Linked DNA regions of Homo sapiens. The protein of the gene in region 1 purifies or fractionates together with the protein of each later gene. This does not show direct contact. Each region holds a gene or a part of one and is shown in the gene's direction. Other genes may lie near its edges.

Evidence for each region. Proteins that work in one complex are often made in the same cells at the same time.
Region 2: the proteins of F9 (region 1) and PIP4P2 purify together in Homo sapiens (affinity purification with mass spectrometry; 2 studies listed by BioGRID and IntAct, with this or other methods). This does not show direct contact.

Annotation. Positions count from the first base shown.
Region 1 is NC_000023.11:139,547,586-139,551,338, forward strand, and holds part of F9 (coagulation factor IX isoform 1 preproprotein), read left to right. Parts: intron 1-777; coding exon 778-906; intron 907-3,476; coding exon 3,477-3,679; intron 3,680-3,753. UniProt on the Homo sapiens protein: Factor IX is a vitamin K-dependent plasma protein that participates in the intrinsic pathway of blood coagulation by converting factor X to its active form in the presence of Ca(2+) ions, phospholipids, and factor VIIIa.
Region 2 is NC_000008.11:91,020,244-91,023,996, reverse strand, and holds part of PIP4P2 (type 2 phosphatidylinositol 4,5-bisphosphate 4-phosphatase), read left to right. Parts: intron 1-2,592; coding exon 2,593-2,741; intron 2,742-3,733; coding exon 3,734-3,753. UniProt on the Homo sapiens protein: Catalyzes the hydrolysis of phosphatidylinositol-4,5-bisphosphate (PtdIns-4,5-P2) to phosphatidylinositol-4-phosphate (PtdIns-4-P).

The DNA of each region.
Region 1 (3,753 bases):
AGCCAGTAAAAAGGCATGTTTATGTCACCAAAAGATATATACAAGAATGTTCATTACACTATTATACATAAGAGCCAAAAACTGGAAACAAACCAAATATCCATTAACAGTAGAATGAATAAATAAAAGCTGTAATAGTAATACAGTGGAATACTACACAGCAATGTAAATGAACTACTGCTGTACAAAACAACATGGTTTAATCTCACAGACAAAATGTTAAATGAAAGACACAGACGAGTACATATTGCGAACTTCTGTTTATAATTCAAGAACTGGCAAGAACTGTTTACTGTGTTAGAAGTCCAGGTAATGGTAACCTATAAAAAGGAAAAAGGGTGGAATGATTGGGAGGGGGCATCTTCTGGGGTATTGATAATGTGCTATGTATTGGTCAGTTTAGTGTTTAAACAGGCTCATTTACTTTGTGAAAACTTACACTAAAATTGTGTGTATTTTTTGAATATATGTTATACATTAATAAATAGGGTTTTTAAACCTGTAGTTCATAATTTAGTGAAAGTAGAATATCCAAACATTTAGTTTTAAACCAATCAATTATAGTGCTACCATCATTTTTATGCATTATTGAGAAGTTTATTTTACCTTTCTTTCCACTCTTATTTCAAGGCTCCAAAATTTCTCTCCCCAACGTATATTGGGGGCAACATGAATGCCCCCAATGTATATTTGACCCATACATGAGTCAGTAGTTCCATGTACTTTTTAGAAATGCATGTTAAATGATGCTGTTACTGTCTATTTTGCTTCTTTTAGATGTAACATGTAACATTAAGAATGGCAGATGCGAGCAGTTTTGTAAAAATAGTGCTGATAACAAGGTGGTTTGCTCCTGTACTGAGGGATATCGACTTGCAGAAAACCAGAAGTCCTGTGAACCAGCAGGTCATAATCTGAATAAGATTTTTTAAAGAAAATCTGTATCTGAAACTTCAGCATTTTAACAAACCTACATAATTTTAATTCCTACTTGAATCTGCTTCCTTTTGAAATCATAGAAAATATCAGTAGCTTGAATTAGACCAATTAATTTTCTAGATTGCATCATATTTTAAATATAAACTATGTAATCATCTACAACCTGAATTCTTTCTGTGTCCAATTTGTCCAATTTTTTTCTCTAACATTTATATCACAAAGCAATTAATTTGTGTGATTTCTGCATATGTATTTGTAATTCATCAAGTCAAATCAATGTAGTAATACTATATCATAAAATATACACAAATAATTGAGTGATAGGCTTCTAGTATAAGGACGGTAAGTTTGAAGCATGATTCTATCTGGGCTGGCTAGTTTACTCTGAGAAAGTTATTTTTTATTGTTGGGTCTTAAGCTGAGTTTACACACTTGGTGTCAGAATGATTCCGGCAATGAACTGTTTTATGTTCTGCTAGGCTGATCAGCACAATCTATATGGCTGTGAACAAAACAATGTTTCCCAGTCATGCCAACCATGCCACCATTTTAACAGCTGATTAGTGTATTCAGAACATCTCCACTCCATGTTCGTATGGCTGTTATCTAAAGATGAAAGCAGTAGACACTTTTATTTTTTGAAAAATTTAGGCTCTGCAGGGTCAATTATATTTGATAAATGAGGGGCTTTTTTGAAGCAAACTAGATATAATTTCTTTTGCATTTCTAAAGCCTGATATCTTATTAATTGGTACATTAAATTGTGCACCATTTCTCTGTAACTGTTTCAGTACCTGTCTCAGCACTATACCAGGCAGAAGAAATTAAAGAAAGAACCAGTGCCGAGATCAGCTTGGTCAGGGAGACCCTAATCCTGCGGCACTAGAGGAATTAAAGACACACACACAGAAATATAGAGTATGGAGTGGGAAATCAGGGGTCTCACAGCCTTCAGAGCTGAGAGCCCCGAACAGAGATTTACCCACATATTTATTGACAGCAAGCCAGTCATAAGATTTACTGAAAGTATTCCTTATGGGAAATAAAGGGATGAGTCTGGCTAGTTATCTGCAGCAGGAACATGTCCTTAAGGCACAAATCACTTATGCAATTGTCTGTGGTTTAAGAACACCTTTAAGCAGTTTTCCGCCCTGGGTGGGCCAGGTGTTCCTTGCCCTCATTCTGGTAAACCCACAACCTTCCAGTGTGGATATCAAGGCCATCACGAGCATATCACAGTGCTGCAGAGATTTTGTTTATGGCCAGTTTTGGGGCCAGTTTATGGCCAGATTTGGAGGCCTGTTCCCAACAAACCAGAAGCTAGGAATATATATCCTGCAAATAAAATGAAGAATCTCTAAGGCTTCAGGGCCTGCCCACTTGTTCTTCTGCCTGGTTCTTCACATACACTGTCTCAAAGCTAGTCTACCTTGAGAGGAGCATGAATATGTGTGTGGGTGTGTGTCTGTGTATTTTAACCTTAAAAACCTAACTTCCAGTATAGACAGATGGCATACTAGCTAAACCCTTACAAGTTCTTCTATGCTATAAAAGAGAAACAGAATTGAGAACCACCTCCAACTATTAAGTGTTATATTTGAATATAGCCTTAGCTTTAGCAGAATAAGTAGGCCAAACTTAAAATAAGCTTTTCTGCCTTTTCAATGATAAAGGTCCCTTTTCTGTAGCCATTGTTGATTGTGTACACTTATACATAAGTATTTTGAACTAATTTCCTGTTTTCTCAACCACTTGCTGTCTTCATGATACTTTGTCGCAGCTGGTTGCTATAGAAATGTCTGTTACAAGGAATGTGGCTTGAAGGAAAGTGATAAATGAAAATGAAATGTGAAGTGACTTTGTTTGACTACAAATTCCCATTCTGGTAGTCCCCAGTGTATCAATACATTATTTTTCTTTAGAAAATAAACCAACCCAAGGAAAAATGGTGGGCAGGTCCTGGTGAATATGGCTGTGATAATTATATTAGCAATCTCTTTGGCTAATATTTGAAGCCCAAATAATTGAATCACAATGATCTCTCCCCAGAAAATATATAAAATGCACCTTGGAATCTAGAAGGCCTTTTAGTCTGCAAAAGAAACCTTCTTAATCATAAGCAGCAGAAGTCCCATTTACCAAATTGGAAAGTTAAAGTTACAAAGCATCAATCATAAGACTTCCATTCAGGGATGGCAATTGGGAGTAAGACTTTTTAGTAAAGAAACTAAACACAAAGTCATTAGACTCTGTAAAAGTCTTACCAAATTTGATTCTGGAACACCTATTCTATTTCCGTAAAGATGATGAATTCCGGAGCCAAATGTTCTTTTCATGAAGGATTTGAAAACTGTCCATGAAAATAACGCAATCAACCTTTTAGCTTGAGACTCTATTCACTGATTAGATTTTTTTAAATACTGATGGGCCTGCTTCTCAGAAGTGACAAGGATGGGCCTCAATCTCAATTTTTGTAATACATGTTCCATTTGCCAATGAGAAATATCAGGTTACTAATTTTTCTTCTATTTTTCTAGTGCCATTTCCATGTGGAAGAGTTTCTGTTTCACAAACTTCTAAGCTCACCCGTGCTGAGACTGTTTTTCCTGATGTGGACTATGTAAATTCTACTGAAGCTGAAACCATTTTGGATAACATCACTCAAAGCACCCAATCATTTAATGACTTCACTCGGGTTGTTGGTGGAGAAGATGCCAAACCAGGTCAATTCCCTTGGCAGGTACTTTATACTGATGGTGTGTCAAAACTGGAGCTCAGCTGGCAAGACACAGGCCAGGTGGGAGACTGAGGCTA
Region 2 (3,753 bases), on another chromosome or scaffold:
TAGAACCTTAGCTCCTCTGCAAGGAGAGTAGGGTTAATGTATTAGGTTGGTGCAAAAGTAATTGCGGTTTTTGCTATTTGAAAGTCGTAGCAAAAACCGCAGTTACTTTTGCAGCAACCTAATACTTGGTGTTATTTTTCCAAGACAAATAGATATGTCTAATAAATTTTAGTGACTCGCTGATTTATTAATTAATTCAACCATTGAATAAACATTTAGTAAGCATCATCATAGACCAGGCATTATGACAAGCGCTGGTGAAGTAGCTGTGGACAAACCAGATGTGCCCCTGGCCTCGTGGAGCTTATGGTCTCTCTTATATTAGATTTATAATCTTCACTGCTTGTTCTGTCCATGTCCCTCCACTTCCCAAGCCTCCAAAAGAGTAGATTTGAGCATATTTCTGTCATTGAAGGCGTTTTTTTTTTGGCAGATTAAAAATTATATAGTACAAATCTTAGAAGAAAAATTCACAGGGTTTTACTGGCTCTAATGCCCTTTTAATGATTGTTAAGATCACCCTCTGAAATTTTCTTAGGAGATTTCTTTGAGCAAAGCTGAGGAGTGTATGGGTTGGTGTCCTTTTATGTAGTGTAGCAATATGTCACTTCCTCCTCTCCCCCTAATGCCCTTGTTTTCTTTATAAAACTGTCTTGCATTTAAGTTTCCTTTCTATCATACTGTGTAAGATAGAGACCTGGGATTACGAGAGAACTATGTAATGTTACTGTACAACTCAAGGAAAAGGCCAGAGAGGAAGCAACTTTTGTTAATAATGCTACTGCAAATAATTATTAAAATAATATTCATTATCATATACCAGGCAGTGTGTCTTGAATTTCTAGTGAGGTACATATTCTTTCCCCAAGAATAATGTCTTTATTGAGATCTGACAAAGTAATCTGCAAATTGCAAGACCTTAAGTATATTGTTGACTCATTGTTTCTTTAACATGTTTTTTTCTTCTTGATTAATACATTACAGGTCACTCTGGATCACGCTCAAATTCTTTTCATGGATTTAAAATTATTTTTATAATTTAAGACATGTACAGCTTCTTTTGAATTTCAGTGTTTGGCAGTGTTCTGTTATAAGCCTCCCAGAAACATAAGCATATCGTCATTTCAAAGTGGCCTCTTTCAGAGCCTTGGCTGCTGCAGAAATTTGTCTTATGAATCATTTGAACGAATACCACTTGTTGCTAATCCTTAGCAGTCTGAAAAAAATCCTATATTATAACCCAAGGATCAGGTAGAAATATGTGTATTTTAAACATACCAAAATGTTTTATGCTCTAATTCTTTTTAAAATATCACAAAGTTTAGGACCTAATACAGTGGATAGAAAACCTTTATTTCAAAAATAGCTCTTATTATGCTTAGCTATTGTGATTATATTTTATAGTGTTACAGAAGCCTCTTGAGATACCAGTTCTCTTTCGTGCTTCAATCATATGTTAGAGTGTGGCCCTTTCTAAATGTCCCAAGACAAAACTTTACCTTGGAAAAGTCTTCTATTCCTGTAGTTGAGATAGTTACAGAAAGGGGTTAGGCAGTCTCCTTTAGAAATCCCATTCCAGAGTAGTATATCAGGATTCCTTTTCTCAGACTTTTGTAACAAATATACACTTCTGGTAGATACTTGATTTTGAAAGTGGGCCTCCACCCTTCACTCACTCACTGAGTCAACCTTAGGACTCTCAAAAAAAACACTGTGTGTGTGTCTTTGTATTATGGGAATTTTCAAACATACACAAAAGTAGTGTGAAACTATGACCTTCCATGTCATTATATTCATCAGTTATCAACATTTTGCTACTTGTTTCATCTGGTTCCCCATTCTTTTTGTGGTGGTTGTTGTTATGGTTTTTGAAGTTTTTAATCCCACATACTACATTTTTTTACTCATAAACACTTTGGTGCATTTCTTACATTTTTAATGGTAGGTAAATTTTGAGACTAAAAATTGTTATATTTACTTTATTTTTGTTTTGTGTCTGAAATTAGCATGGTTCCCATTTTTGTTCCATGCTGAGAAGTTTAGTTTTCTTAGGTTCATTTTTGTTTCTTCTTGACTTCCTCCAACACCTTGTTTTATTCTTGTCATAGCCAGCAGTCATTATACTGGTTCCAATATAAAGACAGAGCATGACAGCTACATAATTTATATGTATGGATAAGCAATTTTAAAACTTTGCTTTCATCGACCATTTTTATTTCCTGGGAATCAGATCACTTGTGTAAAATTTTTATTGTAGGCATAAATTACCACTCTCCTGTTAGAGACTGTATGAATTTACTAATAGGAATGGAGTGACATTTTGAGTATAGATTAGTAAAAGGAAACTGGGTTATTGGGATAGACCTAGGCAAACATGATTTAGATTTTATCAGAGTTAAGAATTATTTTACTTGATAAGAGTCTCATGGATGTTTGTGCTCTAAAAGTAAGATAAATTGGCTAGCTTTGAAAAATAAATAAAAGAACGTGGGAAAATCTTGATTGTTTCTTCTTTACTTATATTGCCTCTATACTCAAACCAGCCATAGTAATTTCTCCAAGACTCTGATTCAGTGACTAATATCTTTTCAGCGGAGCTCCCACCTCCATATACAGCCATTGCCAGTCCAGACGCCAGTGGTATTCCAGTAATAAACTGCCGTGTGTGCCAATCACTAATCAATTTGGATGGCAAGCTTCACCAGCATGTGGTTAAGTGCACAGTTTGCAATGAAGCTACGGTAAGTGGAGATTTCCATTAGAAAAAATATAAATTGTTATTTGACATTTTATTCCTAAAGGAAGTACTTCAATAATGTTACTTAAAAGTATATGTGGGCTGGATACAAATATGGTAATCTTTTTTCCTGTCTTTTCTTCTGTCTCTCTTTCATCATAGGATACCTCACTGTGTTTAAAGCTAACCCCATTAAGAGAATTTCATGGTGAATTTAAATATAATGCCTTTTGGCTTTTTACTTTCAAAAACTAGACTGAGCATGGCAGTTACGTATAAATACTTTCAATATCTATCCACATCACAACTACATTCATTCTTGTTTTCATTAAAATGAAAATATTGTGTACTAAACTTCATTACAGATGTAAACTTTGCCCTATTTATGTGGAAAATTATTTGAAGTTATTTTATGTCTGTAGGATGTCACTATTGTTTTTCTGGGCTTTTGTGATTATGCATTTATTATTAGCATCTGTGCCAAAGTGTTTACAAATAGTTTGACATTTTATTCAATTTAGTTGATAGTAATTTAGGAATGTTTAAAATATTGAATAACACCTTTCCTTTTTTAAAAATTGAGCTTTGGGGAGCAACTAAATTTTCAGCAGTATTTTTATAGCTTCAAGTAATAAACTGGTAAAGCATACACTGGTTTAGATGAAATATATTTCTTTCATAGTTAGGCTTTATATATTACATTTTGATCTCTCAAAATCTGCAATTAAATATTAATTTTATCTTTGATGTTTTATTTTTTTCTCTTTAGAAAAGACTAAAAAAAGTCAGCCAGTGATTATTGTGTCTTGAAGGACCACAAAACATGAATACTTGACTTCATATGTTTTATAGAAAAATCATAAAATAAAACCTTAAGTTACAAAAGCAATATATTTCATTAGTTTTAATGGAATCCTTTCCTTTTTAAACACAAACAAACTTTGACAATCTGTACTTTGGTTAATTGCTGTGTTTGCATTTTCTTCCCTTATCCAGCCAATCAAAAACCCCCCAAC